Linked DNA regions of Homo sapiens. The protein of the gene in region 5 interacts with the protein of the main gene of each other region in a biochemical or structural test. Each region holds a gene or a part of one and is shown on either strand. Other genes may lie near its edges.

What was found.
Region 1: the proteins of RUNX1 (region 5) and ELF4 form a complex in vitro, tested with the Homo sapiens proteins (one study listed by BioGRID).
Region 2: the proteins of RUNX1 (region 5) and VDR form a complex in vitro, tested with the Homo sapiens proteins (one study listed by BioGRID).
Region 3: the proteins of RUNX1 (region 5) and FOXP3 form a complex in vitro, tested with the Homo sapiens proteins (one study listed by BioGRID).
Region 4: the proteins of RUNX1 (region 5) and RNF44 form a complex in vitro, tested with the Homo sapiens proteins (one study listed by BioGRID).
Region 6: the proteins of RUNX1 (region 5) and WWTR1 form a complex in vitro, tested with the Homo sapiens proteins (one study listed by IntAct).
Region 7: the proteins of RUNX1 (region 5) and ELF1 form a complex in vitro, tested with the Homo sapiens proteins (one study listed by BioGRID).

The regions. Positions count from the first base shown.
Region 1 is NC_000023.11:130,072,498-130,076,930, forward strand, and holds part of ELF4 (ETS-related transcription factor Elf-4), read right to left. Parts: intron 2,256-4,433; coding exon 2,084-2,255; intron 1,712-2,083; exon of another isoform or gene 1,661-1,711; coding exon of another isoform or gene 1,645-1,660; coding exon 1,552-1,644; intron 1-1,551. UniProt on the Homo sapiens protein: Transcriptional activator that binds to DNA sequences containing the consensus 5'-WGGA-3'. Transactivates promoters of the hematopoietic growth factor genes CSF2, IL3, IL8, and of the bovine lysozyme gene.
Region 2 is NC_000012.12:47,852,535-47,856,967, forward strand, and holds part of VDR (vitamin D3 receptor), read right to left. Parts: intron 3,268-4,433; coding exon 3,096-3,267; intron 1-3,095.
Region 3 is NC_000023.11:49,252,017-49,255,082, reverse strand, and holds part of FOXP3 (forkhead box protein P3), read left to right. Parts: intron 1-1,015; coding exon 1,016-1,166; intron 1,167-1,880; coding exon 1,881-1,957; intron 1,958-3,066. UniProt on the Homo sapiens protein: Transcriptional regulator which is crucial for the development and inhibitory function of regulatory T-cells (Treg).
Region 4 is NC_000005.10:176,529,970-176,534,402, reverse strand, and holds part of RNF44 (RING finger protein 44), read left to right. Parts: intron 1-1,886; 5' UTR 1,887-1,930; coding exon 1,931-2,037; intron 2,038-2,209; coding exon 2,210-2,399; intron 2,400-2,772; coding exon 2,773-2,940; intron 2,941-3,381; coding exon 3,382-3,555; intron 3,556-3,659; coding exon 3,660-3,821; intron 3,822-4,196; coding exon 4,197-4,321; intron 4,322-4,433.
Region 5 is NC_000021.9:34,786,370-34,790,802, forward strand, and holds the end of RUNX1 (runt-related transcription factor 1), read right to left. Parts: 3' UTR 1,432-4,433; downstream 1-1,431.
Region 6 is NC_000003.12:149,647,324-149,651,756, forward strand, and holds part of WWTR1 (WW domain-containing transcription regulator protein 1), read right to left. Parts: exon of another isoform or gene 2,517-4,433; intron 1,780-2,516; exon of another isoform or gene 1,602-1,779; intron 1-1,601. UniProt on the Homo sapiens protein: Transcriptional coactivator which acts as a downstream regulatory target in the Hippo signaling pathway that plays a pivotal role in organ size control and tumor suppression by restricting proliferation and promoting apoptosis.
Region 7 is NC_000013.11:40,949,553-40,953,985, forward strand, and holds part of ELF1 (ETS-related transcription factor Elf-1), read right to left. Parts: intron 1,885-4,433; coding exon 1,777-1,884; intron 422-1,776; coding exon 254-421; intron 1-253.

The DNA.
Region 1 (4,433 bases), on a different chromosome or scaffold from region 5:
TTCCAAGGGAGGGCGGGGGGCTCATCCCCCCAGCCCCAGACACAGGATACACCTGAAAATGCCTCATGTGGCTTGTACCACGAGGAGAGGAAACATCTGCAGAGCTGTGGGCACAAGCTGGCCCCAATTACAGCTGCCACATTTATAGCCCACTGTTGGTGGTAGGGAAGTTCTAGGCGGCACCCCAGGTAAAGGGCCACCTTGATTTAGTCCTTGGCTCATTTTACGACTCAAAGGGGCCTTAGAGATCATGTAGCCCCATTCCTGTGTTTTCCTGATGAGGAAACTGAGACAGACCCAGAGAGGGGAAGTCATGTGCCCAAGGTCACACAGCAAGTTGGTGCCCGGTACAAATAGGCACCCATTATTGGATCCTGGATGAATACTGGTGAGAGTCAGGACTAGAAATCTCTCAGATTTCAGCTTTATGGCTTGCCTTCCCTCACTGTACCACACCACCCCTTGGGAGAAGGCAATCTGGGGGAACCCTCCTGTGCATCTGCCTGAGGGGTCATTGGGAAGAGCCTGCCTTGGGGGCCCTCTGGGGAGTTAGGAGCCTGGTAGGATGGGCAAGGATCACTTATTTCTTTATTTTATTTATTTATTTATTTAGACAGTCTTGCTCTTGTTGCCCAGGCTGGAGTGCAATAGTGTGATCTCGGCTCATTGCAACCTCTGCCTCCCGGGTTCAAGCGATTCTCCTGCCTCAGCCTCCCAAGTAGCTGGGATTATAGGCATGTGCCACCACGCCAGGCTAATTTTTGTATTTTTAGTAGAGACGAGGTTTTGCCATGTTGGCCAGGCCAGTCTCGAACTCCTGACCTCGTATTCCACCCGCCTCAGCCTCCCAAAGTGCTGGGATTACAGGTGTGAGCCACCACACCCGGCCTGGATCACTTATTTCTAAAAGAGCCACATGCTGCATATCTCAGTCTTCCTGGGAGCTAAGCAAAAGAGCAGAGGGGCCTGAGAAAGGCACCCTGGCCAATATTATTCAGCCTGAAATGGAAATAAATTATTATTATTTTTTTGAGACAGAGGTTCGCTCTTGTCACCCAGGCTGGAGTGCAATGGTGCGATCTCGGCTAACTGCAACCTCTGCCTCCTGGGTTCAAGTGATTCTCCTGCCTCAGCCTCCTGAGTAGCTGGGATTACAGGCTTGCGCCACCACGCCCAGCAAGTTTTTATATTTTTAGTAAAGATGGGGTTTCACCGTGTTGGTCAGGCTGGTCTCGAACTCCTGACCTCAGGTGACCCACCCGCCTCAGCCTCCCAAAGTGCTGGGATTACAGGCGTGAGCCACCGTGCCTGGCCTGAAAATGGAAAGAAATTCTGACACGTGCTACAACATGGATGGACTTTGAGGACATCGTGCTAATTGAAATAAACCCATCACCAAAATACAAAAAGATAAAAGTCATATGTATATCGGTGGGTGTGGTGCATGTATACCTGTGTGCACACATGCCTGAGAAACCAATACATGGATTTCATATTTTTAAATGGAATTATTTTGTTGCCTTGAGTTCAGGCACTGGGGTTCAAACTTACAGATCTGCTTCTCATCCAGGATATCGCTGGGAGACTCCATATTGAGTAAGACTTCCGCGGTTGACATGGTGTGCGAGGTGGCCTCATTGTCATCTGGTCCGGGTTCCATGGTGGGAGGAGAGAAGAAAAGTTCCCTCAGGGCACAAGGCAGGGGGTACAGCTATAATCAGGGCCAGCCCGAAGAAAGGATGGTGGTAAGCATCCTTCGGGCTGACCCTGAAGTGAGTGCTAAGTGAGGGAGAAACAGGGGACCCTGACCAGAGGTACTGAGGGACAGCCAGGAAGGGCCCAGCACCCCTCCTTACCTAACTCTCCACCCCCTCAGCTGGTCTTCACTCCTCATTGTCCCACCCCACTTCCACAGACCATGAATCTACTAAGATGGTTCCCTCCTCTGTGAAGCAGCACAACTTTTTGGCTGGTGGACTTGCCCATTCTGCACGGGGTTACTAGAGGCCATTGTGGGCTGCTGTTCCCTAAAGACACAGCCCCTTTTTCTACCACACCTTCTCTGCCCAGGAAGGGAACAGACCTGTCAGCAAAAAACTGCCTTCCAGGATCTGATCCTGCGTCATGCACAAGGTCCCGTCTGTTATGATGCCATTGTGAACGTCGTCCAACTCCAGTCCCGAGTACAGATGCAGTAAATCAGGGTAGGGTACCTGCTCCACGATCACAGCTGGGAACACAGAGGGGTCTTCCAGCTATGGAGAAGACAGGGATGTGATTCAAGACCCACCCAGCTCTTCCAGCAAACCCTCCCTACCAGAATCTGGCCCTCTGTGCAAGTCCTTATTCTTGGGTTCATCAGGGACTGTCCTTTGTATAGGATGATATAACTCTGGGTCCAGCCTCATTAGGTGATGCTTTGAGTGGGTTCTTGATGAATAGATGGGTTAGCTCTGCACCACCAGCCCTTTAAGCATTTTTTTTTTTTTGAGATAGAGCCTCGCTCTGTCGCCCAGGCTAGAGTGCAGTGGCATGATCTCAGCTCACTGCAACCTCCGCCTCCCGGGTTCAAGCGATTCTCCTACCTCAGCTTCCCCAGTAGTTGGGATTACAGGTGTGTGCCACCATGCCTGGCTAATTTTTATAGTTTTTGTAGAGACAAGGTTTCATCATGTTGGCCAGGCTGGTCTCGAACTCCTGACCTCAGGTGATCCACCTGCCTCAGCCTCCCAAAGTGCTGGGATTACAGGCGTGAGCCACCATGCCCAGCCAAGGGCAAGCTTTTTTTTTTTTTTTTGAGACGGAGTCTCACTCTGTCGCCCAGGCTGGAGGGCAGTGGCGCAATCTTGGCTCACTGCAAACTCCGCCTCCTGGGTTCACGCCATTCTCCTGCCTCAGCCTCCCGAGTAGCTGGGACTACAGGCACCCGCCACCACACCTGTCTAATTTTTTGTATTTTTAGTAGAGATGGAGTTTCACCGTGTTAGCCAGGATGGTCTCGATCTCCTGACCTCGTGATCCACCCACCTCGGCCTCCCAAAGTGCTGGGATTACAGGCGTGAGCCACTGCACCCGGCCAGGCAAGTATTTTTAACTGGTTGTAGTTATGGTTTAACCCGTGGCCAGGTTAGGGCTCAGTCTATGAGGATTAGATTCATTCTAAGGCCATTGGGAATAGACCAGCTGATGGCAAGGGCAAGGGGCTCAACCTATAGTCGGGGGACAAGAGGGATTCAGTCTAGAGTCAGGGCTGGGGACCTAGTTCGCAGCCAGAGTTAGGGGCTCAGACATCTTCGGGCTCCGTCTGTGGCAATGATAGTGGGAATGAAGACAGAACAGAGGCATTATAGAAGTAGAAATGTCAGGACTCAGTCACTGCCTGGATGGGGGAGAGGGGTTCAATTTCCAGCTTCATTCAACAGGGACATGGAGATACTGCTCATGCCAAGGGAGGGCCCAGGAGGAGGAAGAGCAGGCTGTGGACCAAGATAAGGGCTACAATGTCTGGATGTGGTGAGCTTGAGGTACCTTTGGGACATCTGAAATAGAGACGCCTATCAGGGAGTCAAAAATAAGTGTCTAACAGTTCAAAAGGGAGCTGGTGGTCGTTCAATCCCTTGGAGTAGATAAGAAAATTGAGATGAGAATTCAACCCCTAGAGAACAGAAGTGTTTTGAAATTAAGCAAAGCGAAATTAAAAAGCAGTATGACTGCATGTGTTTTTTTTAAAAAAACTCCATATAGAGGCTGCATGTGGTGGCTCATGCCTGTAATGCCAGCACTTTGGGAGGCTGAGGCAGGTGCATCGCTTGAGCCTAGGAGTTCACACACCAGCCTGGGCAACACAGCAAGACCCTATCTCTATTTAAAAAAAAATTAAAAAGAAAAAACCTCTATAAATAAATAAATATGCCAGGATGTTAATCATAGTTTTCTTTTCTTTTCTTTTTCTGAGACAGAGTCTGGCTCTGTCACCCAGGCTGGAGTGCAGTGGCACGATCTTGGCTTACTGCAACCTCCACCTCCCAGGTTCAAGCAATTCTACTGCCTCACCTTCCCGAGTAGCTGGGATTACCGGCGCCTGCCACCATACCTGGCTAATTTTTGTATTTTAGTAGAGATGGGGTTTCACCATGTAGGCCAGGCTGGTCTCGAACTCCTGACCTCAAGTGATCCACCCACCTTGGCCTCCCAAAGTGCTGAGATTACAGACGTAAGCCACTGTGCCTGGCCATAGTTTTATTTTCATTATGGAGTTTTGAATGATTTTTTTCCCCCTTTCTACTTTTTTGTATTTTCCAAATTTTCTTTCATGGGAATGTTAATTCTTTTTGTTGTTATTGTTTAGTCTCAAGATCTGTTTTGTGGATGATAATTCTTTTTTTTTCCCATGCAAAAAGAATGAGAATGATCCTCTCTGTGTAGTGTTCCTG
Region 2 (4,433 bases), on a different chromosome or scaffold from region 5:
GGGGCCCTCGCTCCTATCACTACAACCAAAATGTGCAATGCAGTAGGAGTGTCTCAGCACTGTCTGCCAGTTTTCTCTTCTTCACCATTTTCACATTAATTCCAGGGGAAGAGCATCGAAAAATTTCTGTTATTTGGGTTGGTGAGAGGCATAAAATAACACAGAGCCAGTTTTCTCAGGGCAGAAACAAACTGGAAAGTTCTGGGTTTAGCTCTGTGAATGACCATCATCTCACTGGCAAGGCATTAATTTCGGCAATAACTCATGGCTTTTCTACACAGCTAAGAGGGCCATACACCAATATATGGCACCTCATAATCTGTTTCCATCCAGAGCCGGCAATGTTAACTCATTTTCCAGCTCCCCATATTCCAGCACTGAATCTGAGCATTAGTATCTAGGAAGCATTTTGCCCCTTCTGCCGTAAATACAGCTATTGCTGCTACTTGAAAGACAATAACATTGCTTGAGATTGATTTACTTCTCTTTCTCAACCATATTGTTTATGTATTTTATGGCAATATACCAAATGAACTTTGGGGAAGAATGAAGATACAAATATACATAAATATAGCCATTTCCCAACACATCTATTAAATGTGTCAATACTCTATTGTTTTAAGAATATTGGCCGGCAGTGGCTCATGCCTGTAATCCCAGCACTTTGGGAGGCCGAGACAGGCGGATCACGAGGTCAGGAGATCAAGACCATCCTGGCTAACACGGTGAAACCCTGTCTCTACTAAAAATACAAAAAAATTAGCCGGGCGTAGTGGCGGGCGCCTGTCATCCCAGCTACTCGGGAGACTGAGGCAGGAGAGTGGCGTGAACCCGGGAGGCGGAGCTTGCAGTGAGCCGAGATCATGCCACTGCACTCCAGCCTAGGCGACAGAGCGAGACTCTGCCTCAATTAAAAAAAAAAAAAAAAAGAATATTGGCCGGGCGTGGTGGTTCATGCCTGTAATCCCAGCACTTTGGGAAGCTGAGGCTGGCAGATCACCTGAGGTCAGTAGTTCAAGACCAGCCTGGCCAAGATGGTGAAACCCCAACTCTACTACTAAAAATACAAAACTAGCCAGGCGTGGTGGTGCGTGCCTGTAATTTCTGCTACTCAGGAGGCTGAGGCAGGAGAATTGCTTGAACCCAGGAGGCAGAGGTTGCAGTAAGTTGAGATCGCGTCATTGTACTCCGGCCTGGGCAACAAGAGGGAAACTCTGTCTCAAAAAAAATACAAAAAATTAGCCAGGCATGGTGGCACGCTCCTGTAGTTCCAGCTACTTGGGAGGCTGAAGCAGGAGAATTGCTTGAACCTGGAAGGCGGAGGTTGCAGTGAGCTGAGATCGCGCCATTGCACTCCAGCCTAGGTGAAAAGAGCGAAACCGTCTCAAAAAAGAAAAAAAAAATTAACACTGCATGAGTATTTAAATATAAGTATTATATACAGTACTAGTGTTAAAACAATGAAACATAGGAATAAATGAATGAAATTTATATGAATGAATTGATAAAGGAGGATCCCTTCTCCAGTAGAACTCCTTATACTTATATATTTTGGCAAAAATGTATCAGTATGGTTAGGAAATGGTCTTTATTTTTTTCTTTTTTGAGACAGGGTCTTGCTCTGTTGCCCAGGCTGGAGTGCAGTGGTGAAATCATGGATCACTGTAGCCTTGACCTCCTGGGCTCAAGTGATTCTCCTGCCTCAGCCTCCCTAGTAGGTGGGACTACAGGCATGTGCAACCACACCTGGCTAATTTATAATTTTTTTTTTTTGTAGAGAAGAGGTCTCACTATGTTGATCAGGCTGGTCTGGAACTCCTGGGCTGAAGCAATCCTCCTACCTCAGTCTCTCAAAGTGTTGGGATAGGCATGTGCCACTGTGCCCAGCCAGGAAATGGTCTTTAAATGTACATTTTGGTGAAGGATGCCAGGGTCATATATGCCAGTAAACCTATCTCTCTCCAGGATTCCTAGACTGTTTCACAAGTCTACATGGCCAAGCCCTTCTCTCTATCACTTCATTCTGCTCTCAGAGTTGGGGTGTGGAGGAATCATATCGTTGAATTTAAAGAGATAATATGAGGATTCCAGTCAAGCCAGCTGGAGTGAACACAGCAGTGAGCTGGGAGTTCTAGGCCTGGCTCTGACATGCTGGCTCCAACACCTGGAAGGGATCCTGGCTGGCCATTGGACCTCTCTGGGCTTCCACACCATCATCCAGAAAGTGCGGGGATGGACTAGCTCTCCAGTGCTGGCCTGCAGAGTAACGCAAGACAGGCTGCACTTTCTAAATACAGATTTCTGGGCCTACGCCAGAGATTCTGATTTCGCAGGTCTAGGGTAGGGTCTGAATCTCTATTTTAAAGAAGCAATGGAGGCTGGCTGCTGTGGCTCATGCCCGTAATCCCAGCACTTTGGGAGGCTGAGGTGGGTGGATCACTTGAGGTCAGGAGTTTGAGACAAGCCTGGCCAACATGGCGAAACTCCGTCTCTACTAAAAATAAAAAAATTAGGGCAGGGCGCGATGGCTCATGCCTGTAATCCCAGCACTTTGGGAGACCAAGGTGGTTGGATCACGAGGTCAGGTGATCGAGAGCAGCCTGGCCAACGTGGTGAAACCCCGTCTCTACTAAAATTATAAAAATTAGCCGGGCTTGGTGGCCCACACCTGTAATCCCAGCTACTTAGGAGGCTGAGGCAGGAGAATCACTTGAACCCGGGAGGCGGAGGTTATAGTGAGCCAAGATAGTGCCACTGCACTCCAGCCTGGGCATCAGAGCGAGAATCTGTCTGGAAAAAAAATAAAAATAAATAAATAAATAAATAAATAAATAAATTAGCCGGGCGTGGTGTCTGGTGCCTGTAATCCCAGCTACTTGGGAGGTTGAGGCAGGAGAATCGCTTGAACCTAGGAGGCGGAGGTTGCAGTGAGCCGAGATCGCGCCACTGCACTCCAGCCTGCGTGACAGAGCAAGATGCCGTTTAAAAAAATAAAAAATAAAAAAAAGAAGTGGTGGATGAGTGATCTCCAACCCTTCTTGTAGCTCAGTCTAGGACTCTGACTCTGTTCCCCAGAGATTGCAGAAGTTTCTTACCTGAATCCTGGTATCATCTTAGCAAAGCCAATGACCTTTTGGATGCTGTAACTGACCAGGTCAGCCAGGTGGGGCAGCATGGAGAGCTGGGACAGCTCTAGGGTCACAGAAGGGTCATCTGAATCTTCTTCACTCAGATCCAGATTGGAGAAGCTGGACGAGTCCATCATGTCTGGGAGAGATGAGGGAAGAGAAGGAGCTATTTAAGGATACTTGGACCAGGCCCCCTCCTGCCAGACCCTGCAAAAACCTGGTGTGCCCTGGCAGCAGAGCCAGCTGGGAATCCCACAGTGACTCCACAGGTCACCCTTCAGCCCCAGGCTTCCCTCTGGGACTCTCTCTGCCTCTTTCAGCAGCATAAGGCAGTAAAATCAAAGAGCCAGAGACACTCAGAGCAATGAGACTTCCTCAAGCAGACTGTGTGCTGTTCCTATGGATCTCAATCAAGAAAGAATTTGGGACCCATCAAGTCATGGAAAAAAATGTTCAACCTTGCTAATGGTCAAAGAACTGCAGTGTAGAACATCTATAATTTTCACCTACAAACCAGAAACAAAAATGTTTAAATATTGATGCCAGTATTTATAAAGATGCAGGAAATTAGGCAATGCCTATGAGGGCTGGGGTGCTAAAGGAGGTGCACATTACTGAAGGTACTCTAGAAAGCTATTTGACATTAGTCAAATAATTGTGTGTACTCTTTGACCAGTAGTCACACTTCCTGGAATTCATTGTAAGGGAAAATTTCCGATAAGTGTAAATATTTGGCTACAAGTATACTGTTTTCTTATTAAAATGCTGAGAAATAATCCAGATATCCAATGGTAGGGGATTAGGTACATTATTGTATTCCAGAATACTATGCAGCCCTTAAAAATTATATTCTGGATGCGTACTAACTGGTATGGAAAAACAATGCCATATAAAAAAAAGCAAGTCATCAGATTGTATACAGCACAATTTCTTTTCTAAATATACATATGTGTTTTTTTTAAAAAAAAAAAAAAAAAGAAAGGAAGGAAAGCATGATGCCTCCCAGACTCTCAGCTGAGCTGGAGGGGACAGGTCCTCCAGGGCCAGAGTGGTCCCCAGAGCTCAAGTGGAAGGTGGACCTCAATAGGACCAACACGTTCACCTTCCCACTCCAAATTTCACCTTCTGAAGGGCCCAGGATTAAAATATCACGTAAAGGAAGCAGGTCACCTCCACGGAGGGGGCCATGGGCTGAAGCCTGGCTTAGAGGAAACAGCATGGGCCCGGGAGGCTGATGCTACACAGCTGGAATCCCAGCTTGGCCTCTTCCCCAGTGTGGGCCCTTGGGTAAGTCACCCCTTTCTG
Region 3 (3,066 bases), on a different chromosome or scaffold from region 5:
CCAACTACTTGGGAGGCTGAGGCAGAGAATTGCTTGAACCTGGGAGGCGGAGTTTGCAGTGAGCTGAGATCATACCACTGCACTCCAGCCTAGGCGACAGATCAAGACTCCGTCTCAAGAAAAAAAAAAAAAAAAAACCCTCTGACTCTAAGATCCCCAAACACTGTGATCCTGAGTTGTTAAAGCAAATGCAAATAGCCAGACTTGCCAGATGCAGGCTGTGTGCCAGCAGGACCAGCTATGTAACCTGCAGGGCCCCTTGTTCAGATTTCAAGATGGCGACCACAGAGCATTAAACAAAGCACAGGGTGCCACATAACCACATAGGTCACACGCCCATGAAGCCAGCCCTGGAGGCCAGGCACTGTTTCTGAGCGCTTTGCTGGTGGTAATTTATTTCTCATGATGCGAATGTACAGATGAGGAATATTGAGGCCAGGGGGGTTTAGGTGACTTTCCCAAGGTCACAGTTGGGTGGTAAAGAGCCCTATTCAACCCCAGTTCATGGTCCCAGCATCAGTGGCCACATACGACATCCGCACCTGTGCTCTAATAAATACGGCTCATGCTGTTTTGTGGGATTCCACCTCAGACTGGAATTTAGAAGAGGGCGTCCTTGCTTTGAAAAACACTGATTTAAAAATAAAGTGGAGCCAGGCGCAGTGGCTCATGCCTGTAATCCCAGCACTTTGGGAGGCTGAAGCGGGTGGATCACATGAGGTCAGGAGTTCGAGACCAGCCTGGCTAACATGGTGAAACCCCATCTCTACCAAAAATACAAAAATTAGCTGGGCGTAGTGACGGGCACCTGTAGTCCCAGCTACTCGGGAGGCTGAGGCAGAAGACTTGCTTGAATCTGGGAGGTGGGGGTTGCAGTGAGCCGAGATTGCACCACTGCACTCCAGCCTGGGCGACAGAGCAAGACTCAGTATCAAAAAAAATAAAAAACATAAAATAGAAAGTAAAAAGTGGGAAGTTTAAGCCTCTGGGTCACCAGCCTCTCCCCCTCACCCAGGCATCATCCGACAAGGGCTCCTGCTGCATCGTAGCTGCTGGCAGCCAAGGCCCTGTCGTCCCAGCCTGGTCTGGCCCCCGGGAGGCCCCTGACAGCCTGTTTGCTGTCCGGAGGCACCTGTGGGGTAGCCATGGAAACAGCACATTCCCAGGTAAGAATGGTCCTTGCACTACACGGTGCCCCCAAGCTCCTAATCCTGACAGGCTCTGGGTGGAGGGTGCAAAGGAGCTCCATGCTGCCCCTTCCCACCACCACCACCACTGCAGCTGCCGCCACTCAGCCTTTGGGAAAATGCATCCGCTCACAAAAGCTTCCTTTCGGGATGTCCGTGGCCTGAAAGCCCCCCATATGGTCTCGAGTGTCGGGCCCCTAGCCCTGACTCCCTTGGGGATTGGGGCCATGCCTCACCCACTCTGGACTCCAGCTACTATATTCGGCCATCAGAAGGGAGGGACCCTGCTAAGTAATTCCAGGAGCACCTCCTTTCCTCCCCTGACCAAGGAAAATCGGGGTGGATTCGCCCGAGCTCACCTATCCACTGCTCTCCACCAGGCCTGGCCTGTGGGCTTAGCAGGGATCAGAGACCTTGACTGTCATCCTGGCTCTGCCATTTAACCTCTTGCATCCTTTGGTGTGCAAGTTACTCCGCTTCTTTTCAACCTCGGGGAGAACTATTTTGGCAGAAGTGGTGCAAAGAATAAATGATACAACTTATGTCAGGTGCTCAGCAAACAGTACCTGTGCCCGTGGACACGGGTGTTGACGGTGAGATCTCAGGCCTGTAGACTCACCTTGTAGGGGGAGGGGACAGGGAGCTAGCTAGGAGGTCCTGCATGGGGCTTGATTCATCCCCACCCTCTGACAGAGTTCCTCCACAACATGGACTACTTCAAGTTCCACAACATGCGACCCCCTTTCACCTACGCCACGCTCATCCGCTGGGTAAGCAGGGCAGCTCGGCCCCAAGGAGGAGGAAGACAAAGATGGGGTGGGGGACCTGCCTCCCAAACTCCTGTCTCCCTCTGAGTGCCCTCAGAGTGGGTTCCTCCATTCCCAAGCCCCAGCCCCAAGGATCCCCAAGCCGTGCCTCAAATGTGACCCCTCATGCTGGCTTCACCCCAAACCTGTCCGCAAATCCAAACCTAAACCACCATCCAGGCCAGAGCATGCCAAATTCTGACCCTAAACCTACCCCTTTCCAGATGTCCACCTCAGCCCCATACCTAACCCTCTCCTGGACCCATAAAATAGCCTAAAGCTAACCCCATCTCTGCACCTTGCCCTAAACGTACCCCAGCTCTTACTCTAACTCCTTCCCCAGCCTTTATGCCAACCCAACCCCATCTCCTTCCCTGGCCCCAACGTACCCCAGTATGTCAATACACCCCCAACTGGGCACCATTCCCAACCTTTCCTTGTAACACCCATTTGATCCTTAACTTCATCACCCCATCCCAACTCCTTCATCTCAGCCTCCCCAATGCCTTCTCAGAACCTTCATCCTAGCGCCACACCTAACCCCAAACCTGAACCTCACCCCTACATGATACCAGATATTCCCCGACTGTCTCTGAACTGAAACCCTGACCTAGCCCCATCCTGACTGATAGCCTCACTGCAATCATCATCGCTGACTCTGTAATCCCATTCCTGAATCCAAACTGATCAAATTCCCTGACCCTCAGCCTCACTCCACACCGAACCCCACAACTAACCTCATCCTTGCCCTGAGCCTAACCACCTAACCATGTCCCTGACACGTAAGATACTCGATAATTCAAACCATCTCTGGCTTCTGACCTAAAGCCAAGTCATCCCATCCCTCACCCCTAGACCCCCCACCTGAGTCCACCCCAGCCTGACTCTTAACCCACCCCTTCCCTGACCCTTAAGTTGGCCTGGCCCTTTACCCCTTCCAAATCCTTGACCCCACTTCTGACCCTTCACCTTCCCCAACCCTGAAATGTCACCTCCACAGAGAACCCCAACTCCAACTCCATCCCAGACCTTTCACCTCACTTCAGCCCTAGCCCTGAACAAGACCCCACTCC
Region 4 (4,433 bases), on a different chromosome or scaffold from region 5:
GGGTCACAAACCCATTCCCCGATGATGGGCAGGCAGAGGTTGGGCCTGGGTGACCTGGAGGGAAAGCTCTCGCTCCCAGTGAGGGGGCCAGGCAGAAACAAGTGGGACCAGGCTTGCCATGAGAAGCCAGGTGTTTTGTAATCTCCCAACTGTCAGTTGTTGGCATTGCTGCCAGACTGGGTGACCTTGGACCTGTGTGATTGGCTCTGTTCCGTGCACATTTCTCACATCAGGCCTGCCCTGAGCTGGACACAAGGTGGTCCCTGGCCCTGCCCACACCCTCTGCTGGTCGGGCCCCGGTCTCCCATGCGGGCTCCTTTTGAGAAGCAGGGCCCAGGCTTGTGAAGTGCAGCACAGAGGAAATGGTTCTTGCCGCTGTTGGCAGGAAGGAACTAGGTGTTGAGCTGACAGTTACACTGGCTCCCTGGCTGTGTCAACAGGGAGGTGACATTGAAAGCTGGGTATCAAGGATGCATAGGAGTTTTGTTAGATGGGGAAGGGATGGAACGAGCCTCCCTGTGGCAGGAACAACAAAGATCTGGTCCTGTTGGACGCATCCTTCAGCTTTGCAGGGCCTGACAGGTTCTAGAGCTTTTCCTGCCAGGGCCTCGTCCCAACTTTGAGTTGAGCGGAACCCTGAGGTTGAGCCAGGTCCCTCGACATCCTCCACCTGGACCCTCATCTCTGACCGGAGGCAGGAGACCCTGCCCCAACCCATTCCTATTCAGCTTCCTCTCTCGGGTTCTTCCTTCCTTTTTTTCTCAGCAGGCACCACCTCCCACTTTGAGGGCTGGGTTGGGGGCCCCAGAGCAAGGGCCTGGCTGCATGCCAGACTCCACAGTCTCCCCAGGCTGACTTCCTTCATCACCTCCCATGAAGCCTGGGGCTGGTCCTCTCCGTCGGCAGCAGAGCACAGGGAGAGGCTTTCTTTGGCCCACCTCCCAGCTTTAACACTTTACGGTGGGGCTTTGGGCAAGTTTCTTCTTGCTGAGCCTCAGTTTCCTCCCCCGTAAAATGGGCCAGCTATACATTCCTTGAAAGGTAGATGAAGTCACTCGTGGATAGGCACAGTGGGAGCAGGTTAAGGAAAGAAAGAATAGTGTCTTGCTTTGGACTGGAAGCCCCCGAGGGCAGGAGCGGGTTAGAACCTCTTGCCTGGCACCAGTAAGAGGAGAACTGGGTCCCAGGCCTGTTTGGAATCCCTGCTGGAACCAGCCAGAGGGAAGGGAGGATGTGGACCCTCCTCAGGAACCCCCAGCTGCCGCCTGGAGGCCAAGTTGTAGCCCCTGGTGTAAGGCAGAGAAAGGTCTGGCCCTAAGCCCCTTTCCAAGACAGGGTGCCCTGAGACCCCGCCCAGCAGGAGCCTACCAGGAACCCACTGGCTTGGAAGCACGCTGGCCAGCTCGCTGAGCTCCGCAACTGAGGGGGACTGGGTCCCATTTCACACAGCAGGAGGGTGAGGCCTGGGTGCTGGCAGGCTGAGCTGTCCTGGCGTGTCAGCACTGGACCCCAGGGCTCGGAGGAGGGGCACGGCTGAACACCATTGGTCCCTGGGGTCACACTGCAGAGGTTTGGTTCTGTCTCCTGACCCCTCATGGCACAAGCGCCTGGACTTCTCTGTGCCTCAGTTTCTTTCTTTTTTTTTTTTTTTTTTTGAGACGGGAGTCTCGCTCTGTCACCAGACTAGAGTGCAGTGGTGCGATCTCAGCTCAGCTCACTGCAACCTCCGCCTCCCGGGTTCAAGCGATTCTCATGCCTCAGCCTCCCAAGTAGCTGGGATTACAGGTGTCCACCACCATGCCTGGCTAGTTTTTGTATTTTTAGCAGAGACGAGGTTTCACCATGTTGGCCAGGTGCCTCAGTCTTCTTGTCTCCTTGCCTCCTAGGGTTGTGAGTCCCGGCCCAGCCCCTCCACCCCCCTGCCCCCCCGATGCGACCATGGGCTCTGGCAGTGACTAGGTGGCCACCCTCCGCCCCCGTGGGCCAGCGGCGATTCTCTGCGGGACCTGGCAGCACCCCGGGCCAGCTCTGGGGAAGGTAGGAAGGAGCCTCCCAGTCCTGGTGCTGGGGCATGGGGGCCAGCAGGGGTGGGGCGCAGGGCCCTGAGCTGCCTTCCCTCCCCATGGGGGGAGTCACCCTGGCTTCTCTCCCTGCTCTGTGCACGAGTGGCCCCCCTCAGTCCTATCGGGGCCTCCTCTCTGTGGTGCAGCCCTGGCCTCGAGGGCCCCCTGGCCAGCCCGCCTGCCCGGGATGAGCGCTTACCCTCCCAGCAGCCGCCGTCCCGACCTCCACACCTCCCCGTAGAGGAGCGCCGAGCCTCGGCTCCTGCCGGCGGGAGCCCCCGAATGCTGCACCCAGCCACCCAGCAGAGCCCGTTCATGGTTGATCTCCACGAGCAGGTAGGCAGAACCCCATCCCCTGTGCCCCTGGCCCTGTGAGCCAGTCTGAGAGGCAGAGGCAGCAAGGCCTAGATTTCACCTAGCTTGCTTCATTTCACGTTCCAGGGAGGCATTATTGGCCCTGCTTTACAGGTAGGTAAACTGAGGCCCGGGGAAAGGGCCACACTGGGTGACTAGCAGAGCTAGATTCCCACGGGGCTTTCTCTGCCCCGGGGGCCTGGGAGTAGAGGCACAGTCTGGTCTGCACTGAGGTAGGCCGCCGTGGAGAAGGGAAGGGAGCCGGCAGCTGGATGTGGCAGGATGATTTCTCCTGAGAGTAGCCCTCGCGGTCAGCTTCCTTTTCATACTTTCCCGGCGTTCTCTCCACCCACAGGTGCACCAGGGACCTGTCCCTCTGTCCTACACGGTCACCACAGTGACGACCCAAGGCTTCCCCTTGCCTACAGGCCAGCACATCCCTGGCTGCAGTGCCCAGCAGCTCCCAGCATGCTCCGTGATGTTCAGTGGGCAGCATTACCCCCTCTGCTGCCTCCCGCCCCCGGTGAGTGAGTGTTTCTAGCTCCTCCTCCACCAGCTGCAAGCCCCAGGCACAGGCCAGCGGCTCAGCGGGCCCAGGGCAGCCCTGAACTGGGCTGAGCTATCCAGCCATCCAGGCTGTCAGAGCGCCTGCCTGGCCTCCCCAGGAAAGCATACGCGTGTTCACATTTGGTAATAGAGTGTTTCAAGGTTCAGGAACCTTCCAGTACCCCTGTACCTGCCTCACAGCTTGGCAGAGGCCCAGGAGTTGAGGCTGTGGGCCTTAACAGTGGAGTGTCCTGCCTGGGTGGCCTAGGACAGGGATGGGCCTTCCACAGGGTTTCTTATACAGACCCTGGAGCTGCTGGGTGTGTGCCCGGTGGGGGCCTTTTGCTGGGTGGCATGGCGTAGACCTGGCCCAGAGCCCAGGAGAACGTTCTCAGCCCCCTGCCCCCTCTCTTGGCAGCTTATCCAGGCGTGCACCATGCAGCAGCTGCCTGTGCCCTATCAGGCCTACCCCCACCTCATCTCCAGTGACCACTACATCCTGCACCCCCCACCACCGGCCCCACCCCCCCAGCCCACCCACATGGCGCCCCTGGGGCAGTTTGTGTCTCTGCAGACCCAGCACCCTCGGATGGTGAGTCGGCATGGGTCCGATGCTGGAGGGAGATGGCGTGGGGGGAGGCAGGGTGAGGACAGCCTCGTCTCACTGACTTGCTGACCCGGCGCTGGTTCTTCCAGCCCCTCCAGCGGCTCGACAACGACGTGGACCTGCGTGGGGACCAGCCCTCCCTGGGCAGCTTCACCTACTCCACCTCTGCGCCTGGCCCAGCCCTTTCCCCGTCGGTGCCCCTGCACTACCTGCCCCACGATCCGCTGCACCAGGAGCTGTCCTTTGGTGTGGTGAGTGCCACCCCGACCCCCACCTGGGCTCCAGGGCAGCTGGGAGGCAGACCCGCTGGGCCGACCTGCATCTGGGCTCCCAGGCAGCTGGGAGGCAGGCCCACCGGGCTGACTTGCACGTGGGCTCCGGGGCGGCTGGGAGGCAGGCCTGCTGGGCTGACTTGCACCTGGGCTCCGGGGCGGCTGGGAGGCAGGCCCACCGGGCTGACTTGCACGTGGGCTCCGGGGCGGCTGGGAGGCAGGCCCACCGGGCTGACTTGCACCTGGGCTCCGGGGCGGCTGGGAGGCAGGCCCACCGGGCTGACTTGCACCTGGGCTCCGGGGCGGCTGGGAGGCAGGCCTGCTGGGCTGACCTGCACCTGGCCCCTCTTGCAGCCATATTCTCACATGATGCCACGGAGACTGAGCACCCAGAGATACCGCCTGCAGCAGCCACTGCCCCCGCCGCCCCCACCCCCACCCCCACCACCCTACTACCCCAGCTTCCTGCCCTACTTCCTGTAAGTATCCGCACATCCGCCCCAGGTCCCTGATGCCCTGTTCTCCTGGAACCTCCAGTGGTTAGACCTAAACACAGCTCCAGGGGCCCCAGGGCCTCTGAAGCCACCTGGC
Region 5 (4,433 bases):
CTTCTTTGTGCATGGCCATGTCCATGTACTGCCTGATCCTACCCCTGTTTCCTACCTGTGCTCAGGAGCGGTGACTTCTAGGTCACATCCTTTCTTGCTGACCCCACTTTGGTTCCTGACATTTTTTGTGGTCCTCCTGCAGACCATTTAAGATCAATGTTAAAGCAAACTAAATATGGCCTGAGAAGGACTCCATATTTCTATATTTGAGTCCTGTGGATGAACTGTAACCTAGCTTAATGGTCAGACAAAATTAAAAACCTAACTTAATAGTATGCACCTGTAACAATAGCTAAGGGTTGGCCAATCCCAGTGGTCATAATTCAACCACTCATAGACTCCTGAATGTTCAAACTGCGTTCAAATAAGGCAAACGCCAAGCTGTAACCAATCTCACTGTATCTGTACCTCACTTCCGATTCTTGTACATCACTCTACCTGTTTGGTCTATAAATTTGTTCTGACCACGAGGCACCCCTGGAGTCTCCGTGAATCTGCTGTGTTCCTGGGGGCTGCCCGATTCACAAATTGTTCATTGCTCAGTTAAACTCCTTTAAACTTGATTCGGCTGAAGATTTTCTTCTAGCATCAGTCATGAGGTCCCATGAGACAGCAGTGACAGAACTGGAAGATACTTTAGACAGTAATTCTTGGTGGGAAGATACCTTGAGTTGAACCCAGAGTCTTGAAACTAAAATACTAAAGATACTTTGCACTGGGGTGGTGGTGAGAGAAGTATTTCTTTTAAAAAACTCCCAACCACTACCCAAGCCTGATTCCTGCAATGTACAGCAATGAAGGCAGATGAAGCTTCCTGGCCTTAGGTTGAACATACAGCCCTTTCCACTTTGGGTTGGCTAGTGTCATGTAACTCTTTTTAGTTTCTTTATTATTATTATTATTTTTGAGATGGAGTCTCGCTCTGTCGCCCAGGCTAGAGTGCAGTGGCGCGATCTCGGCTCACTGCAACTTCCGCCTCCCGGGTTCACGCCATTCTTCTGCCTCAGCCTCCTGAGTAGTTGGGACTACAGCCGCCACCACGCCAGGCTAATTTTTTATATTTTTAGTAGAGACAGAGTTTCACCGTGTTAGCCAGGATGGTCGCGATCTCCTGACCTCATGATCCGCCCGCCTCGGCCTCCCAACGTGCTGGGATTACAGGCGTGAGCCACCGCGCCGGCCTATTATTATTTTTTAAAACAAGCATTAAAACATGCTTCAGTGCTCTTTCATATGCAAAGAAGCAACCCTGGGAGCCTGCGCCTTTTCCAGGCCCTCATGCCTTCAGAAGCCAGAGTGTGCTAGGAGCACCGGGGGTGAGGACATAGCTTCAGCCTGAAGCTGTTCACTGGAGGTATCTTCCTAGTGTGTGCAGTGGGCCTTACTCAGTTTCCCAACCCTCCATCTCAGAGAAAGACAAAACCAATTGGATATGGTGTATGTACTTGTCAAACTGTTTATTTGCCATTCACACTGATTGTAACACTGGATTTACAGAAGAAACTGTGGTACAAAGAGAGGAAGGCTCTGGTGGCTCCTGAACAGCAGCAGTCCAGCTGCCCTGCTCAGGCTGGGCACGACGAATGCTCCCAGGAGAGGGGAGGCGGCCCACCCGACTGTGTACCGTGGACTGTGGACAGTGCAGTGCCTGCTCTCCTGTGCTATCTAGAAACACCTTGGAGAGAGGGTTCTGGGATATTCTCTCATGTCATCTGGCTGAAGACACCAGCTTGACAGTTCCCCTTTAAGAAGCATTCCATACGTTTGTACCAGGGAGAAAGAAGCCCACGCACGAATTTTCAGGATGTTTTGTGACCAAACCCAATAACTGCCACACAAATAGACCCTAGGTGGGGGCTGGCTTAAATAGGACCACATTTCCCGTTGCTTTTTCAGTAGATGTGTTATACCGTCATTTCAATTTGAAAGTTTATTTTTTTCCATTGATTTTTATACATCCAGAATAACACAAATAACCAACAGTTCTTTTTCTTTTTTTGCACATTCATTTCCCCTAGAACAAAAAAAGTGAACTTAAAAAAAATTGGAACCATGCTATTAGCTGTTTACAAAAGTGAATAAGAAGTAGCTCATTTTAAAGTCTAAAATAAACAAAGTAGAAAGAAGCATTTTTTTCCCTACAGTATTTAGCAAACCTAAGAAAAAGTCCTTAGAAACACACACAAAAAAATTGAAAAAAAGTTATAGGCATTAACAATATTTTATAATGAAGCTTAAAATCTATTTACATACATAAATACAATTAACTTTGTTGATGCAACTCTTCTGGAAGGAAAAAAAGAGCCAAATGATCAGCCTCATCAATACTGACCTGGCTAAAAACAAAATTCCCAACAAACACACAAAAATCCCAAAACAAATGTATACGCTACGGTAAACAAAAAGGCATTTTGTTCAGATGTAAAATATGTTTTGTGAGATTATTGTCAAACAAATTTTCATGTATAAAAGACCCAAACATGTCATTCCCCCCAAAAATAAAAACCAACAAAAATAAAAATCATCAGGACGGAATGTCCCAAAGAAACAGGTATTTCAAGGCAGAAATCTGCAATCCTAAATTGCAGGACATTTGAGTGGAACCATTCATTTCCTTTCTAATCAGAGCATTTCTGTTTATCTGCACAGAAACCCAAGGCAGCAGAAAGGCTGTCTATTTACTCACTGATTGTGATTTGCCCAGGAAAGTTTGCTGGTTTGGACAGCAAGCAGATCCAATATGGTTGGCAATGTCTCTGTTCTGCTGGAAGAAACCCATAAACAGGAGAAAGGCTGACAAACCATGTTCCTTTATGTGAAGGGGGAAGAACTGGACCTTCTTGTGTTCTGAAATTTGGTACTGGGTGGGGGTATGTGCTATCTGCTTAAGAGAACACAGGAAAAGGAGGAGGGAGAAAGTGGGGTTTGGAAGATAGAGGAAGAGAGAAAAAAAGGGAGATATTGGGGGGAAGAGAGGGAGGGAAATGTATTTTCAGATAGTGAGAAAAAGAAAGAACTGAAATATGTATCCATGTTGAAATCATAAATAGGGACATGAGTAAGCAGTAGAAATGGCTTATTCAATACTTCTCCTGGACCAGACACATGCAGTTATTACATGATTGGCTTAAGGGTCTCATTGATACCTTAACTTTCCTGAGGGCAATGAATAAAAAGATACCTTAATCTACCTGAAGTCAATGAATGCAATTTTTCACACACACACACACACACGCACACACACACACATACAAAAATGTGTTGCGTGAGACCTATCGCCAAAACAACTACAGTTTGATTTTTTTTGAAACAATTAAATACTATATATGCTGGTAAGAGTCTGTGAAACTCTAAATGACCAATCCAGTGAGCCTACAATAGTGACAAGCCCCCTCCACACATGGCTTTGAGAGTAAAGGTTCAATGTAAAAGATTATCTAATCAGAGCATGAGGCTGGTTTTGAGTTGGAATATCTTCAGTTAACAGAATTAAACTGAAAAACATAATTTTTTCCTTCATTTTTCTCCAGCATTTTTGCAGGTCAGACATGGTAACATGTGCTGAAAAAAAACATTTACGTTTAATTTGGGGGAAATGGGCTAATGGTGCTTTTCAGAAATTAAATTTTTACATTTGCTGACATTTTATGGTAATTTAGCTGCAAAAATGTAATACGGAATAATATATGAAACTGAGTTGTGGAGGGAATCCTGTCAAAAATGAAAGTGAATATATTCTGAGTTTGTCCGAGATCTGCTATAGCTCTTCTCTAGATAAGAACGACCTGACAACATAAGCTGCTTTACTCTTTAACTCTTACCAAAGTGCTACTGCATGTGTGTAAAACAAATAATCAATATATATATAAGAAAACTCAAAAACAAGTTGTTTTAAATAAGTCCAGCTGTTTTTGCTGCCTGCAGCCAAAGATTTGCCTAATTTGAATGCTTAAATTTATAAAATAAAAATCAAACACTGTTCTGAAGTCCTGCTTTCAAATACTCTTCAGAGTTGACCTGAAATCGTTTCAACGAATTTTAAGAGGTACGTTAAATAACCACCAGATCATTTGGAGCACACATGTGTCAAAATCAGCAGTTAGTATTTATGAGTTGTACAACAACTGCATTCTGACCAAATCCTCCAATAAAAATAGTGCCATAAAATTTACAGCGACATTGGATACCTTTGAATTGTAGCCACGGACAGTAGTGACATGAATCTTTCCTGTCACACTGGTGCACAGGTAAAAGCCCATATACCCCATAGGGTAGGGTCTCAGCCTGGTGAAAGCAACACAAAGATGTTGTTGAGTGAGCAGCACAGGACAGGGGGTCTCGCACAGGTGGGACCATGTTTTCCCACTTGTCTCCACTGAGGCACACAGAGGCAAATTGACTCCTCGAGGCCTGCTTCTGGTGGGCCCTTAAAT
Region 6 (4,433 bases), on a different chromosome or scaffold from region 5:
CACCTGAAAACATGAACTTTCGAGTTTAGAAAATGCGTTCCTGAGAGGGAGGCCACTGGCTGCCCAGGCAGGGCATCCTCAGGGAACTGGGCCTAGGTGGGCCCTGGTGGGATGACTATGGTTCCAGAATCTCAGTTTTGTCTGTGTCTAGTTGATCAGCCTCAGAGGAACTGAGAAAGTACCGAAAACCACAAGAGAGTATTCTGGGAACAAGCAGACTCAAAAGCTATTCATTTACAAGCAGAAATGATAGATCCAGCAGGGGCGGTCCCAAGTCAAGGGTAGCCTGGTATCCCACTTACTTGGGAAGTAAAGACCACCCACAATTTTGGAACTGTACTTGCTAAATTGAATATAGGATGGAGCTATGAATGGAAAGATAAAAAGACCATAATTTCCAGACTCTTTTAAGTCAGCATAAAATGCTTAGTTCTCTAAACAACCAGGAAGATCTCAACATAGGTGACAATGGTGGGGTCTTACGCTACAGTCACAAAAAGCTAGGACTCGTGTATCTCAAAACTAAGGAGTGAGAAAGTTGACATTTACTAGCAAAAGGTCAATGAGCCCACCCTAGCTGAGGCTCCAGAACCTCAATGGGATGCATAATCATCTACCAACCAACACCTATCTTTTAATACAAGTCAGTACAAGCTCCTCTTAGTCTCAAAAACACACCCTCAGCATTTCTGCCTCTATACCTCTCTTCCCATCCTGTTTTTCCTGGAAGGCTTGTCTGCACACCTACCTATATCTTTGCCACTTTTTGAAGGTTCCATTTATGTCTAAGCACCTTTATGAGACTTCTCTGAACACCCAGCCTTCATTCATCTCCCTCTCCACTGCATTTAGTATCTGGAGCTCTGACATTAATCTTGCAGTCAAAGGGGCACAGATACAATGGAATGCCATTTCCAAGCATGGAAGACTCCTACGAATTCCAGGGTGCAAGTTTACAATGAAAATGGCTAAAAATAAATAATACAGGATTCCTTTCGAACACCTACTATGTGCCAGGCACTGTGCTCAAGTTAAGCAATGCCAAGCAAGACAAACATCGTTCTTCCCCTGATGGAGGTTACAGTGCAGTAAAAAAAGGAAAACCAAAACTAAACAAAACAAAAAAAAAACAGTAATATGAGAGTGGAGCAATGACTGAGGAAACAGAAGGGCCTATGGGAGGAGGAGCAGCAGCATCTAATCCAGAGTGGGAGCTGCAAGTTGGGGAAAAGTTCCTGCAGGATGTGGCATCTAAGCTGATATCTGAAGGTAATGGAGGAGTTAAGCAGGCAAAAAGCAGGGAAATAATGTTCCAGGCAAAGGAAACAGCTTGTGCCAAGTTCCTGAGGCCAGAAGGAGTACAGCCAATGGGAGAAACTGACAGACATTCTGTACAGCTGCAAATTTCAGACCTTTAGTCATATTATAAATGACTGACTTAGGACACACCTTACAAAGGCTTCCGGCAAACCAAGGTGGAAGGCAGCTGATCCAGGCTCTAGGACCACAGGTCGAAACCAGCTCTTTGGCCTGGTTTGTCTGTGTTCCCCTTCTCTCTCCAGATTCTGTCAGCTGCCTGCGGTGATAAAGCCAGCCACACATTTCTTCTTTTAGGACATACTCACGATGCTAACACAAACAGGAGTTCAATGCTTTTTTTTAATTTTTTTTATTTTTTATTTTTTTGAGGCAGAGTTTTGCTCTTGTTGCCCAGTCTGGAGTGCAATGGCATGATCTCGGCTCACTGCAACCTCTGCCTCCCGGATTCAAGCGATTCTCCTGCCTCGGCCTCCTGAGTAGCTGGAATTACAGGCAAGCGCCACCATGCCCGGCTAATTTTGTATTTTTAATAGAGACAGGGTTTCTCCATGTTGGTCAGGCTGGTTTCGAACTCCTGACCTCAGGTGATCTGCCTGCCTCAGCCTCCCAAAGTGCTGGGATTACAGGCGTGAGCCACCGCGCCCAGCCAAGTTCAAATGATTTCTAGTTGTAAATTAGCTGAACTGGCTAAAGATCTTTTAGATGGCACAAAGGCAAGGCCCTGGAAGATCATCGCCCCTTTCACCGTCTAAATCCCGAACAATAACAGGAATGAACTTGCAAAGGTGGTGTTTGTGCCAGGCACTGCGCTCAGCACTTTATAAATGTTTCTTCATTTCACTTCTTCTCCTAATAGCACTGAGCAAGTGAACATCATCTTTTCCTTTCTTATTTATTTTCTGCTATGCCTAGACGGAACATTAAATAAAAGCTAGAAGTCCAGGAAAGAGAGCATGCAAGTAAAGAATAAGCTGAAAGAAATCCATATGACCGCCGGGTGCAGTGGCTCACGCCTGTAATCCCAACACTTTGGGATGCCATGGTGGGCAGATCACCTGAGGTCAGGAGTTTGAGACCAGCCTGGCCAACATGGTGAAACTCTGTCTCTATTAAAAATACAAAAATTAGCCAGGCGAGGTGGCAGATGCCTATAATCCCAGCTAGTCGGGAGGCTGAGGCAGGAGAATCAGCTGAACCTGGGAGCAGGAGGCTGCCGTGAGCTGAGATGGCGCCATTGCACTCCAGCCTAGGCGACAAGAGTGAAACGCTATCTCAAAAAAAAAAAAAAAAAAAAATTCTGTAGAGACAGAATCTCGCTATGTTGCCCAGGCTTGTCTCAAACTCTTGGCCTCAAGCAATCCTCCCACCTCGGCCCCCCAAAGTGATAAGATTAGTGGTGTGAGTCACCTTGGTGGAAATCTTGATGAGAATAAAATATAAATAGACAATGGAGGTGTACTACCCATTTCTGGTATATTTGGGTTTTCTTCCATCATCTCTATCTCACCATCAATGACAGTTCCAAATAGCATAACCCAGACTCAGTTCAGAAGCAAACTCTAAAAATCCATCCACCACTCCACCACCACAGTTATGCGATCATCAAGGATACATAATTACAAGACCTAATTATGGGCCACACAATTGGCATGAGACAGCATGGCATAAGGACAGGAACACAGGTTTTGGAATCACAGAGTTCTAATCCCATCTCTGCCACTCACCTGTTATATGACCCCAGGACATTTATTTAACCTCACTGAGCCTCAGTTTACTTAACAGTAAAATGAGGTAATAATATATACCTGTTCATGGGATCACTGTGAGGGTTAAAAGAAATAATATACGTAAAAGCATCTAGGGTTATGAAAAAGTTCCATATGCATATAATTCTGTTGCTATCTCTCTGGGATGTGCTGACTCTCACTCTCTGCCTTGTCTGGCATACAGCAGGTAATCAACAAATGTCAATTACCTTTCCTGCTCATCTCCCCCTTCTCCATTTCCTCTTCCTCCCCTATCCCACACACAAAAACAGCTCAATTTGTAGTGACAATCTAGATTCCAAACAATAAAAACTAGACACTTCTCAGATGGAGTTGGGTATCCTCTGCCCAAAATGCTGAAGCAAAAGGGCACTTACAGTGAGCATTCCTATTTAGGTTTCTCTTAACCAGGAAAGTTGACTCTAACTCCTTATTTTAAACTTAAAACTGACTTTCAACTCCAGATCCAGGTTGTCCCTCAAAGCTACAGCTGTAATCCAGAGTCAAAAATCACCTGACCCCTATTGCCAAGGTTTCTGCTTCTGATTTTGGCTGGGTAAATAGGCTATGTGTGTTGGGAGAGAGAGAAGAGAAAGCAAGAACTAACTTGTACTGAACATCTCCTGTGCGCCAGATGCTTTAAATATGCTCATCTTTCAAACCACAATGCAACAGGTATCACTCTCTTCACATTACAGACAACTGAGTTAGCAGACAGTATTTTTTGAATGACAAAGGGCCCTTATGAAAACAGCTACATTATACTGTCATTCAAAGATAAACAGAAAAAACAAGCCAGAGTCAGAACAATTTTTAAGTAAATACGTTCAGATAAAAAAGGACTTGAAAAACTTACCTCCTACAAACCACTTCTTAAGAAGTTACTCAAGCATGTACTGCAGCAAAATGAGGGATAAACCAAAAAAATAGGAAGACACGGGAAAAGGAAACAGCACTTCCAGCCATGGAAAGAAGTTCCAGGATGACAGCTCTGTAGTGGGCTTAGTGAATAACCAGTTCAGAACGGCACAGAACGAGAAAGGAATCTCGGCATACAGCTTAGACAAAGAAGACTCGATAGGTTAGACAAGATTGAGAGCCTAGAAAACTTTTGAGATCATAATAATGGCAAATAATGCATGAACACATTAAAAGGCAATCAGAAATACTAGGGAAAAAATTTAAGAAAGTCATGGTCCAAATATGAAAAAACTAAAAGGTAACACAAATTTAAACAACTGATGAAGAGTGAGAAAACAAAAAATCCCATTTGACTTTGGGGCTAGATATCTCATCCTTTGATTGGCCCAGGAATCCTAAAACCAGACCCACAGTGCAAGTCTAAAA
Region 7 (4,433 bases), on a different chromosome or scaffold from region 5:
CTTTGTTGCCCAGGCTGGTCTCAAACTCCTGGCCTCAAACAATCTTCCTGCCTCGGCCTCCTAAAGTGCTGGGATTACAGGCATGAATCTCCGTGCCTGGCCAAGAAATAACTCATAATTTCCATTTTGTGCCTTCAATGTTTTTCTTACATAAGTTTTAACTGCAGCAGGAAAGAACTATGTAGAATAAAAGTGATATCTAGATTTCACACCAAGACTTGACTATGCGCCCTAAACAAAGTAACCCACCTACCTTTTTTCCTCTTAGGCTGTTCTGGTGATGAGGCTCCCGGTGAGTCTGCATATTTTTCTTGCACCTGCTGTGTTTCCATCACTTCAGGAATCCCATCTAATGTGACGGACACATGGGTGACTGGGGCAACAACCATGTCATCTTCAGGTGAACTAAATATATTATTATCTAATGAAAATAAAATCAACTAATTATAGTCCACTGTGTATTATAAGTTAAAAAACGATTGAGAAAATTTCTTGTTTCTATTATGACTAGAAGATTAAAGTAGAAATAAAATCTTGAAATCTATTCCTGCGTTTAAGTTCCCCTTCCCAAAATCAAATACCCTAAACCAGTCCAGGCACGGCGAGCTATTTCAATGTCTTTCTTACTTGACTTCCTATCACCAGTCTGTCTCATCTCTCCTCTTGATTATTCACATTGCTGTGAGAGTTATTTTCTGAAACCTAAGTCTGACCTGACCATAAAATTAGGGGAATAAAAAACAAAACTGACATACCTTTCCATAGTTCATAGGAAAAACAAAAAACAAACAAAAAAATAATCACAACCCATCTCTATAGCATGCCTTACAAAGCTTCTGTAATCTAGTTCCAAACCTACCTTTCCAATCTCATTTCCCACCCACCATGAAGCTTACACTTCAACCACACCAAAACATCTTGATCTCAAAGATTTCATTCATTTTTTTTTTAACAGATCTGTGTCTTGTATCTTTAACTCCATTCCCTCCAGCTTGAATGACCTTTCATGTCTCTTCTACCTATTAAAAGCTTGTCATTTACAGCCCAGGTCAGAATACTCCTTCAATGAAGCCAGTCTCTGATATTCTCAGCTAGAATACCCACTGCTACTAGAGCAATTCGCTATCACTCTTGTGGCCTTTATTCTTGGCTTTGTAGTTATTTACATAAGTAACTGTCTTCAAAATTAAACTGTAAGCTTGAGGAAAGGAACAGTATCTGCTCATTTGTATCTCATGTTATTGCCTAATTATTGCTGCTGTGAATATAGCAAATATTGAATAAACATTTTAGACTGATTTAGCAATAATTTACTTTATGAATTTGATTGCTTGTCAGAAAAGCCCAAAGGAGAACAGGAATTTTAAAGCAGATCAATAATGTGGCAGTGAATTTTATGCCATGATGTGTCAGTAAAATTTTCAATAGATTGTTGCCTATTTGCTGATAACTACAGAGATGACTAAATTATAATCATTTGGGCCCTTGATACCCTAATACTCTCATCAATATGTTAAGAGAAGAAATTCTGCATGATCTTCTATTTGGTAAGTAATAAATTACATTTTTTTGTTCCCAAAGGCTTCATTCTCAAATTAAAATGTCATCTTTAACTCTACGTTTTTGCAAAGGCACCTCAATTCCTACTATACCTTAAAATGTGATTGTAACAAAAAATATATAACATCATTTCTAATCTCTTGATTTTACTAATAAAGAAAGATGGCAAGAGTAACTTAACAAAGTACATAAACATAAACAATCATAATCACTCACTTATTCGTTTTTCATCCAGCATAGGGCCAGGGGAATCCATATTGAGGAGTGCCTCAGCAGCCTCAATAGTTTCAATTGTTTCATCCCCGTCATGACAAGAAGCTTCAACTGCAACACATTTAAAGAGAAAATTAAATTAACTACGAGACATCTGTTACTCTGAAAGTCATACACCGCTTATCTCTAGAACCAGAATACATCATTTAATATTTTAGTTTATATATATATATAAACTATAAACACACAAAATCATACCAAACCTGGCTGGCGCAGTGGCTCATTCCTGTAATCCCGCACTTTGGGAAGCCGAGGCAAGCAGATTGCTTGAGGTCAGGAGTCTGAGACTGGCCAACATGGAGAAACCCTGTTTCTACTAAAAATACAAAAAATTAGCTGGGCGTGGTGGCACGCACCTGTAGTCCCAGCTACTCAGGAGAGTGAGATAGGAGAATCGTTTGAACCCAGAAGGTGGAGGTTTCAATGAGCTGAGACTAAACCACTGCACTCCAGTCTGGGTGACAGAGTGAGACTCTGTCTTAAAAAAAAAAAACAGAAACTATTACATTAAAAAATCAATATTTCCTTAATATTAAATAGCCAACCAGCATTCAAATGTTCAATTGTGTTAAAAAATCATAAATGGTGGCAGTGCAAGGAAAGACAAGACAGTTTTTTGCTTAAATCAAATTAAGTCTGCATATTGCAATTGACTGATACATTTCTTAACTTTCTTTACATTTCTGAGTTGCCATTCATCTGTCTAGCTTTTTTTACTTTGCAATTTATTTGTTGAAGAACTCAGGCTGTTTATTCATGTAGAATTTCCCATAGTTTGGATTTTGCCAACTATATTCCTATTGTGTAGCTTAACATGTTTTTCTATACCCCCTCTAACTGAGTAGTCATATCTGGAGGCTTGATGAAATTCAACTTTAATTTTTTTTGGCAAGACTAAAAAAAAATTTATGTATTTTGATGACAGCTCAAAATATAATCTAAGCCTCAAATTTCATAAAATCATTAAATCTTTTTGGTTTTGCTTTTTTTTTTTGAGACAAGGTCTTACCCTGTCTCCCAGGCTAGAGTGCAGTGGCTCAATTATAGCTCACTGCAACCATAAACTCCTAGGCTCAAGCAATCCTACCACCTCAGCCTCCCGAGTAGACAGGACTACAGTCTCAGGCCACCATGCCCAGCTAATTTTTAAAATTTTTTTAGAGACAGGGTCCCGCTATGTTGCTCACTTGAATTCCTCAAGCCAGGCCTGAATTCCTCAAGCCAGGCCTTGAATTCCTGGGCTCAGGTGATCCTCCCTCCTTGGCCTCCCAAAGTTCTGGGATTACAGGTGTGAGCCGCTGCATCTGTTCAAATATTTTTATTATGAAAATTTTAAACAAAATAAAAATTGTGGAGTATAGTATATATAATGAATCCCCATGTGCCCATTCCTAGCTTCAACTATTATCACCAAATGGCCAATCTTCTTTCATCCATACCCCACTCACTGCCCTCAAGTCCTTACCCTCTGTACAGGATTATTTTGAAGGAATCTAAAATACCATATTTTATCTCTAAATACTTTAGCATGTGTATCTAAAAGATGTCTAACACAATACTACTATCATATCTTAAATATACTAACAATAAATCTTTTTTTTTTTTTTTGAGACAAAGTTTCAATCTTGTTGCCCAGGCTGGAGTGCAATGGTGTGATCTTGGCTCACCGCAACCTCTGCCTCCCAGATTCAAGCGATTCTCCTGCCTCAGCCTCTTGAGTAGCTGGGAATACAGGCATGTGCCACCATGCCCAGCTAATTCTGTATTTTCAGTAGAGACGGGATTTCTCCATGTTGGTCAGGCTGGTCTTGAACTCCCGACCTCAGGTGATCTGCCCGCCTCGGCCTCCCAAAGTGCTGGGATTACAAGTGTCAGCCACCGTGCCCGGCCTACAGTAATTCTTTAATATCATCTATTATAGGCTGAATGGTATCCCCCAAAATTCTATGTTGACATGCTAACCCCCAGTACCTCAGAATGTCTTTAAAGAGATAACTGAGTTAAAATGAGGTTATTAGTGTAGGCCCTAATCCAATATGGTTAGTGTCCCTCTAAGATGAAATATGAACACTGGCAGGTACAAAACATAAGACCATGTGAAGACACTGGAAGACAAGTCACCTATAAGTCCAGAAAGAAGCCTCAGAAGGAATTAACTCTACCAATATCTTGATCTCAGACTTCTAGCTTCCAGAACTGTGAGAAAATAAATTTCTCATTTGAGCCACTCAGTCTGTGGTACTTTCTTATGGCAGTCCTAGCAAACTAACACATCATCTGAAGCGCCACCTAACACGTGTAAGAACAAAAATGTCCTATCCTTATCTCTTTCTTCCCCTAGAGCTTCTCAAAGGCTCCCCGTCACCCCCACTGTGGAATAACGAAGATTACAAGGTTCTTCCCTTTTTCATGACATTGCTCAGAAAAGGATGGAAGAGTTAAACAAAGCTTTGGTAAGTTGGGAGGTAAGGCAAAGGGAAGAAAAAACACAAACAGAGAATCTGGTTTCCTCTCTGAGAACTAATGCCTTCCCTGATGACTAGAACTAGGAAGAAACACTCCTTCCGGAAAGACATTGGTCCTCAACTTACAAAGACTGT